Linked DNA regions of Homo sapiens: regions 1 and 2 are each linked to region 3. Evidence: fine-mapped expression QTL. A gene starts in region 3. Each other region holds a variant in brackets. All regions are shown on one strand. Distances are from middle to middle.

Region 1 (2,755 bases), 37 kb after region 3:
CTGTCCAGCTAAACCCAGCCCCCACCATGTTCTAATGTCTTCCTCCAGGGTCCCACTAAACCTATTGACATTGACCAAGAGCATCTGAGATGTGGATCCCTAAGCAGACCTCCATGAAGTTCAGCTTCTTCATCTTTTTTTACATTTTTTCTGAGACAGGGTCTTGCTCTGAGTGCAGTGATGTGATCACGGCTCGCCTCGACCTCCTGGGCTCAAGTGATCCTCCCGTCTCAGCCTCCCACTTAGCTGGGACTACAGGCATGCACCACCACACCCAGCTTATTTATTTATTTAGCTAGGGACAGGGTCTCCCTGTGTTGCCCAGGCTAGTCTCAAACTCCTGGGCTCAAGCCATCTGCCTGCCTTAACTTCCCAAAGGGCTGGGATTACAGGCATGAGCCACAGCTCCCGACCTACTTCATCTTAAAAAAAAAGAGAATGGCACCTGTCTCTCCACCATCCTGCAGGGCTATGGGAGGACGGCTGCTAAGGGTTTAGAACAGCGCCCGCTGTGAGAGCTGCTGTGACTGCTAACAGCAACAGTGGAAGCATCCAAGGGAACATTCCTTTGCCTGCTGACACCCCCAGGCCCCCAGCCACCCCGCAACAATATATCTCAAAATACATCTCAAGTCAAATCCTTGAAACAGACAAGTAAGAGATCTGGAGAGAGAATCTGCTGGCGGCCTCCCTAAAATCACACATTCTTGCCACAGCCACCCCACGCCCTGCTGAGTCTCAGAGGCAGCCTCTGTCCATCAGAAACCAATCAGAAATGGCTAGAGCCCTATACTGGAATCAGTCCTTAATGAAGTATGTGATTCACATACAAAACCCTAATCCTCCCAGTTTCCTGGAGAGCTCACAAAGCTGCACACAGTGGGCACAGCTCACACAGGGGCCCGGCCTCATCTGCAACATTATCCCCTGTGTAGTCTTTGAAACTTCAGACTCCCTGACCTCTGGGGCTGGACTCTCACTTTTATGAAGCATTCTAGGCACCAGTCATTGGGACAGGGACAGATTTTAGGACTCACTACTGCAGATTAGGTGGGGAGAAAGCCTATTAAACCGGGAAATTTCTGTCTCCCTCTGAGAGGCAGCAGTGGCTCCTAAAAGAGGCTTTGTTTATGTTTATGTCTGCATTGCCACTAGGTCAGTGTGGACCTGCGGGCTCTTTCTTTGAGCCTCAGTTTCTTTTTTTCTTTCTTTTTTTTTTTTTTTTTTAGACAGGGTCTTACTCTCTGGCCCAGGCTGGATTGCAATGGTGTGATCTCGGCTCACTGCAACCTCCATCTCCCAAGTTCAAGCGATTCTCCTGCCTCAGCCTCCCTAGTAGCTGGGATTACATGCGCCCGCCACCATGCCCAGCTAATTCTTGTATTTTTAGTAGAGACGGGGTTTCGCCATGTTGGCCAGGCTGGTCTCAAACTCCTGACCTCACGTGATCCACCCACCCCAGCCTCCCAAAGTGCTGGAATTATAGGCATGAGCCACCGTGCCCAGATTGAGCCTCAGTTTCTTTTTTTTTTTTTTTTTTTTTGAGACAGACTCTCACTCTGTCGCCCAGGCTGGAGTGCAGTGGTGCAATCTCGGCTCACTGCAAGCTCCGCCTGCTGGGTTCACACCATTCCCCTGCCTCAGCCTCCGGAGTAGCTGGAACTACAGGCACCCGCCACCATGCCCAGCTAACTTTTTGTATTTTTTTT[G/TG]GTAGAGATGGGGTTTCACCGTGTTAGCCAGGATGGTCTCAATCTCCTGACCTCGTGATTCGCCCGCCTCGGCCTCCCAAAGTGCTGAGACTACAGGCGTGAGCCACCGTGCCCGGCCGAGCCTCAGTTTCTGATTCCACAACAATTCATCTATTCACTCATGTATTTACTCAATTGAATTGTTGACGCTGCAATTGCCAGCAACATGCCCTTGACCTCCAGGACAGACTGGGTCTGTGAACTCTAAACCCTCATGCATAACTGTCCCTTAAACATCTTTACTGAGGCTAAGCAGGGGTTCTCCAGCAGAGATGGAAAAGAAGGGGTGCAGGCAGAGAAGACGACACAGCTCAGGTTCCAAGCTTGAGAAAGCAGAGGCTGCTTGGAGAACTGCAAGTTGCTCCACACGATGAAGAGGAGCTGGGACAGCGCGGCTGGGCAAGGGCTTTGGGTGCCACGACAAAGGGTTCAGATTTATCCCGCAGGAAACTGGAAGTCAGTGAATACTGCTATGGCGGTGGTCCAGTGGAGGAAATGGGAAGGAGGGGATGAACAGAGACATCGAGGAGGGTGAGTTGGCAGAACGTTGTGTTTGTGTGTGGTGACAACCCCCAACTCCATACATGGAGCAGGATGGGCAATAAGGCTGGAACACTGGACCAGAGCCGCTTGGTGGAGGGCCTTGGACTCAGAGGCTTGCTTCTCTCAAGGAGAAACCCTTTCACCCCCTGCTTCCTTGCTATGCCTCCTGCTGGTGGCACCAATTGTCTTGACCATTTTCTTCTAGTATATTTGTCCCTAAAGGCTAGAGAAGGATCAAGAAATGATGCATTTCCAAGATCAAGTCCAGACCTTTTGGTAACAAAGGCTGGCAGAGGGGAAAGTGAGCAGAGCAGCGCTGGGCTTCCAGCCTCCCCGTGCCAGGTCCTTTCACCTCCTCCACCACACCAGCCTTTGGTCTAATCAGACCCAAGGGAAAGAGACAAGGGGCACTCCGAGGTTTTCATCTTCCTACCCAAGTGCTGAGTCTGAAAGACCACAGAGAC
Region 2 (2,755 bases), 42 kb after region 3:
GCAGTGGCTCACACCTATAATCCCAGCACTTTGGGAGGCTGAGGCAGGCAGATCACTTGAGGTCAGGAGTTCAAGACCAGCCTGGCCTTGAACATGGTGAAACCCCATCTCTACTAAAAATACAAAAAAATTAGCCAGGTGTGGTGGCATGTGCCTGTAATCCCAGCTACTTGGGAGGCTGAGGCAGAGGATCGCTTGAACCCAGAAGGCAGAGGTCGCAGTGAGCTGAGATCACAGTCTGGATGACAGAGCAAGACTCTGTATCAAAAATAAATAAATAAATAAACAAATAAATAAATAAATAATGAAAATAATAATATTTCATGACACATAAAAATTGTATGAAACTCAACTTTCAGCATCCATAAATTAACTTTGACATTCTGTCAATAGCAATCCCCCCAAATTATGGAAGTTGGTTTCATTTCTTGGTATGTACTTACCGACTTCATACCCTCGATTTTGCCTGTTGGCCCAAAGCATAAAGTATTTATTCTAGCCAGGCGCAGTGGCTCATTCCTGTAATCCCAGCAGTTTGGGAGGCCAAGGCAGGTGGATCACTTGAGGTCAGGAGTTCGAGACCAACCTGGCCAACATGATGAAACCCCATCTCTACAAAAAATTCAAAAAATTAGCCAGGCATGGTGGCACATGCCTGTAATCTCAGCTACTTGGGAAGCTGAGGCACAAGAATTGTCTGACCCTGGGAGGTAGAAGCTGCAGTGAGCCGAGATAGCGTCATTACACTCCAGCCTGGGCAACGAGAGTGAAACTCTGTCTCAAAAATAAAATAAAATAAATTAAAAATAAATAAATAAAATAGAGATCATAAGACTGACAAAACAGACTTTTTTTTTTTAGACAGAGTTTCGCTCTTGTTGCCCAGGCTGGAGTGCAATGGCATGATCTTGGCTCACTGCAACCTCTGGCCCCCGGGTTCAAGTAATTCTTCTGCCTCAGCCTCCTGAGTAGCTGGGAATACAGGCGCCCACCACCACATCCAGCTAATTTTTTGTATTTTTAGTAGAGATGGGGTTTCACTATGTTGGCCAGGCTGCTCTCAAACTCTTGACCTCTTGACCTCAGGTGATCCACCCACCTCAGCCTCCCAAAGTGCTGGGATTACAGGTGTGAGACACCGTGCCTGGCTCAAAACAGAATTTTTGTAGCAATAAGATGCCAAATTTCTACCTGACTCTGGTACATCACGTAACAGATAGCAGACCCTGAAGGGCATCAAAATATTTTACCCCAAAATATATTTATTTGACAATATTTTGAAATGGCCCTGCAAAGCTGTCTCCCATGGGGGAAATTTGCATCTGTAGAGAATTTCCATTAATGTAGCCAGGACTTTGTCAGATTTAGGAGAGATTCAATGAGAGTCTGAGACTTTTGAAGGTCTGAAAAGAGACATTCACTATCTATTCTGAGGGCTGCTACCTGGAGGCTTCATCTACGTAACAAGAACCTCAGCTTCCACAACCCCTTTCTTAACCCAAGCATTTCTTCCCACTGACTTCAACGCTTTTTTTTTTTTTTTTGAGATGGAATCTCGCTCTGTCGCCCAGGCTGGAGTGCAATGCAACCTCCACCTCCCTGGGTTCAAG[C/T]GATTCTCCTGCTTCAGCCTCCAGAGTAGCTGAGACTACAGATGTGTGCTACCACACCCAGTTAATTTTTGTACTATTAGTAGAGACAGGGTTTCACCATATTGGCCAGGCTGGTCTCGAACTCCTGACCTCGTGATCTGCCCTCCTTGGCCTCCAAACTGCTGGGATTACAGGCGTGAGCCACCATGCCTTCAACTCTTTATTTTATTTTATCTTACTATTTTTTTTGGAGATGGAGTTTCACTCTTGTTGCCCAGGCTGGAGTGCAATGGTGCGACCTCGGCTAACTGCAACATCCACCTCCCAGGTTCAGGCAATTATCCTGCCTCAGGCTCCAGAGTAGCTGGGATTACAGATGCATGCCACCACTCCCAGTTAATTTTTCTATTTCTAGTAGAGATGGGGTTTCACCATATTGGCCAGGCTGGTATTGAACTCCTGACCTCAAGTGATCCATCTGCCTTGGCCTCCCAAAGTGCTGGGATTACAGGTGTGAGCTACTGCAACTGGCCTGTTTTATTTTATTTTTGAGACAGGGTCTCATTCTGTCCCCCGAGTTGGAATGCAGTGTCACAGTCATGGCTCACCATAGGCTCGACCTCCTGGGCTTAAGTAATCCTCCCACCTTAGCCTCCCAAGTAGCTGGGACTACAGGTGCACATCACGATGCCCAATTAATTTTTAAAATTTTTTTGTAGACACCGGGTCTCACTACGCTGCCCAGGCTTGTTGAAAACTCCTGGGATCAAGCCATCCTCCTCGGCCTCTCAAAGTGCTGGGATTACAGATGTCAGTCATTGTACCCAGCCACTTCAACTCTTTAGACAAAGCTTAACTTTTTCAACCAATTGCCAATCAGAAAACCTTTGAATCACCTATGACCTGTAACTCCCCTGGAGTTGTCCTGCCCTTATAGGCTGAAGCAATGTGTACTTTACATGTATTGATTGATGTATTTGCTTGTAACCTCTGTCTCCCTAAAATGTATAAAACCAAACTATAACCCAACCATCTGAGGCACACTTTCTCAGGACCTCTTGAGACTGTACCCCAGGTCATGGTCACTCATATCAGCTGAGAATAAACTTCTTTTTTTTTTTTTTTTTTTGAGATGGAGTCTCGCTCTGTCACCCAGGCTGGAGTGC
Region 3 (2,755 bases):
TTCCATTCTTTTAGGGAAGATGAAAAAGTCCTGTTGCATGGATGGTGGTGATGGCTGCACGACGATGTGAATGTACTTTTGCCACTGAATTGTATCCTTAAAAATGGTTAAAATGGTAAAATTTTGTTATGTATATTTTACACAATAAAGAAAAAAGAAACTCCAAATGTTCTTTAATAAATGCCTTAAGCGGCCGGGTGCGGTGGCTCACCCGGCCTGTAATCCCAGCACTCTGGGAGGCCGAGGCAGGCAGATCATCTGAGGTCAAGAGTTCAATAAATGCCTTATGCATCTTACAACTGTATTGGGAAGAGAAGAAGAAATCAGCAATGAGGGAGTGAAGCAGAGGCCTGGGAATCATGATGTGGACAGAAAGAAGGGACAATCAGGAGCCTCCCCTGCACCTGCTGCAGTCCCAGGCCCGTGTTCCAGGGTTCTTCAAGGCAGAAAGCCCCAGTGCCTCACCCCAGGAGGGGGCTTTTCTCTCATATCCCAGCCCCTTGGGAGGCTTTTTCTTCTCACTCCCTGGGCTGGGAGTCAAGAAGACCTCAGTAGGAGTCCAGCCTCTGCAGCCTTGCTGCGTGTCTGACAACAAAACCCTTTCCCTTTCTGGGCTTCAGGGTCACCGACATGTACCACAAGGAGGATTCCCAACCTCTCTTCTTGCCCAAACGCTGCATGATTCTCTCAGCGACGATACAGCTCGTCCGGTTCACCCTGCCTAGATTCTAGCAGGAACTATGGTGCCCTGAAGGTCAAGCCCATGGTGATCTCCTTGGTCAGCCCCAGAAGGGACCCTGGGCTCTCCTTCTGCTCTTCCTGCTGCCCCTTCATGGGGCTGGGAAAACCTAGGACCTGCTTCTCCCACCCTGAGGCCCCTACTGTGTACCAGGCCCGGGTAAGGTACCAGTCACATACTCGCACTTAGGCCTCACAGTTCATCCCATTTTATGCACAAGGCGACTCAAAGACTGAGTCTGGCCCAGAGAAGGCCTGCAGGAGCTCCGAGCCCCGCCTGGGCGCCGGGAGCAGGGGCGGGGTCGTCCGGGACCCTTTCCCGGAAGGGAGGCCGCAGGGGCCTGCGGGGCGGGGCCTGCGGGGCGAGGCCCGGGGCGCGTCCCGGAACCAGAGACGGGGCAGCGCTCGAGTTCCTGCGCGGGACTGCCAAGGCACGACCACGGGCCGGAAGGCTGCCAGGCCCAGTGGGCAAGCGAAGAAATGAACCACCGCAACGCGGGCGCTTCGGGGCGGGGCCGAGTGCGAACCTGAGCCCCAAATCCCGACCCAGGCAGGGGCGGGGCCCGGAGCGGGGCCTTGGAGGCCCAGCCCGCGCGGCGACGTCTCCGCGTGGCGTCACGGCACCGACTGACGGCCACCCACCATGGCCGCAGACCAGCGCCCGAAGGCCGACACGCTGGCCCTGAGGCAACGGCTCATCAGGTACCCGGGCGGGGGGCGGGCGGCGGGGGGCGCGGGGCTGCGCGGAGAGGCACGCGCACGCACGACGCACGCACGCACGCACTACGCACGCGCCTCCGGCTAGGAAGCCGCTGCTACCCATCCCGTCCGGCCGCTGCCCCGGCCCCGCTGGAGCTTCTAGGGCCCGAGGCGGGCGGCGCCGTTGGGCAGTCCCGGCGGGTGGTCTCCGGGGCCGCCTCCCCGACAGCGCCGTCTCCAGGCCGCCCAGTTCAGGAGACGGCCCCGCCCTCACCGCTGTTCGGCTGTGTCAGCCTCGCTTGGCAGCCTTTACTCCGGAGAAGACCTTCACCCTGGCGCCTGAGAGGACCTCACCCAGGGTGGCCCGTCAGCAGCACCTGGGCCTGGCTCGAGAGTGACCTGGGAGGGGGCTGAAAGGGCAGACAAGGGAGAGTCGGGGGAGTCGGTTCACAGGCAGCACACTTGACCTGTGAGGGGGCCCTCGGTGGGACGGTGGGTGAGGTCGCCTCCCACTGGAGCTTAGGGCTGGCACCCAGCGAGGGGCAGCAGGGCCACGTGGCTGGCAAGGAGCTGTTTAGGGCTGAGAGCCAGGCACCTAATGTTGGTGCCCTGGCCCATCCCATCGAAGACACGCGGCCTTATGGAGTCCCCATGGGACGGGGCAGCCACCTTTTCTCAGGATCCGGGAGACTGACGCGGACACATGCAGAAATGAGCAAGGAGGCCACAGAGGCTGAAAATGCTTTCAGAAACAATCCGAAGTTTCAGCGACTTGTTACCCCATCTGCTTCCTGCTTTGCAACCACCTGTGGAGTGGAGAGACAAGGCAGGGAAGCAGCACCTTGCCCTTCCAGCTCTCATTTCCCCCCCGCCACCAGAAACTGGGAAGGGGTGGGCGGGGGTCTGCGATGAGTAGACTTCACCCTTTCGGTCTTCAGACATGGCTGTCCACTCCTTGCCTGTCCCCACAGCTCTTCCTGCAGACTCTTTTTTCCCGAGGATCCTGTTAAGATTGTCCGGGCCCAAGGGCAGTACATGTACGATGAACAGGGGGCAGAATACATCGATTGCATCAGCAATGTGGCGCACGGTCAGTATCACACCTCAGGCTGGCAGGGCAGGAGAGGAAGGCAGTGCTGTGAACCTGGTCCCAAGGTGACCTGAGATTGCCGAGAGGTGTGGAGAACCTGGGTGGAGTTGAGGCACTGTCAGTATGCAGAGGAGGCTCAGCCTTCGCAATATAGCTGTGGAATTCTGCAATCTGGAGCTGTGCTAAACCAGGCAGGGGTCAGCAATCTAGGTCTGTGAGTCTAGTTCC

What was found.
Region 1: its variant is fine-mapped to the expression of PHYKPL in whole blood (INTERVAL, PIP above 0.99).
Region 2: its variant is fine-mapped to the expression of PHYKPL in whole blood (INTERVAL, PIP 0.98).

What each region holds. Positions count from the first base shown.
Region 1 is chr5:178,194,393-178,197,147 of GRCh38, reverse strand. No RefSeq gene overlaps it. Among named protein-coding and RNA genes, the nearest start is that of GMCL2, 8.4 kb to the right of the region's middle. The variant G/TG (reference allele first, on the strand shown) is at 1,710.
Region 2 is chr5:178,189,402-178,192,156 of GRCh38, reverse strand. No RefSeq gene overlaps it. Among named protein-coding and RNA genes, the nearest start is that of GMCL2, 3.4 kb to the right of the region's middle. The variant C/T (reference allele first, on the strand shown) is at 1,611.
Region 3 is chr5:178,231,177-178,233,931 of GRCh38, reverse strand. PHYKPL (5-phosphohydroxy-L-lysine phospho-lyase) reads left to right here and starts at 1,130. Exons shown (of 13, transcript NM_153373.4): 1 at 1,130-1,440; 2 at 2,409-2,527. The coding sequence starts at 1,382. RefSeq lists silencers at 896-1,305, 1,386-1,705 and an enhancer at 968-1,506.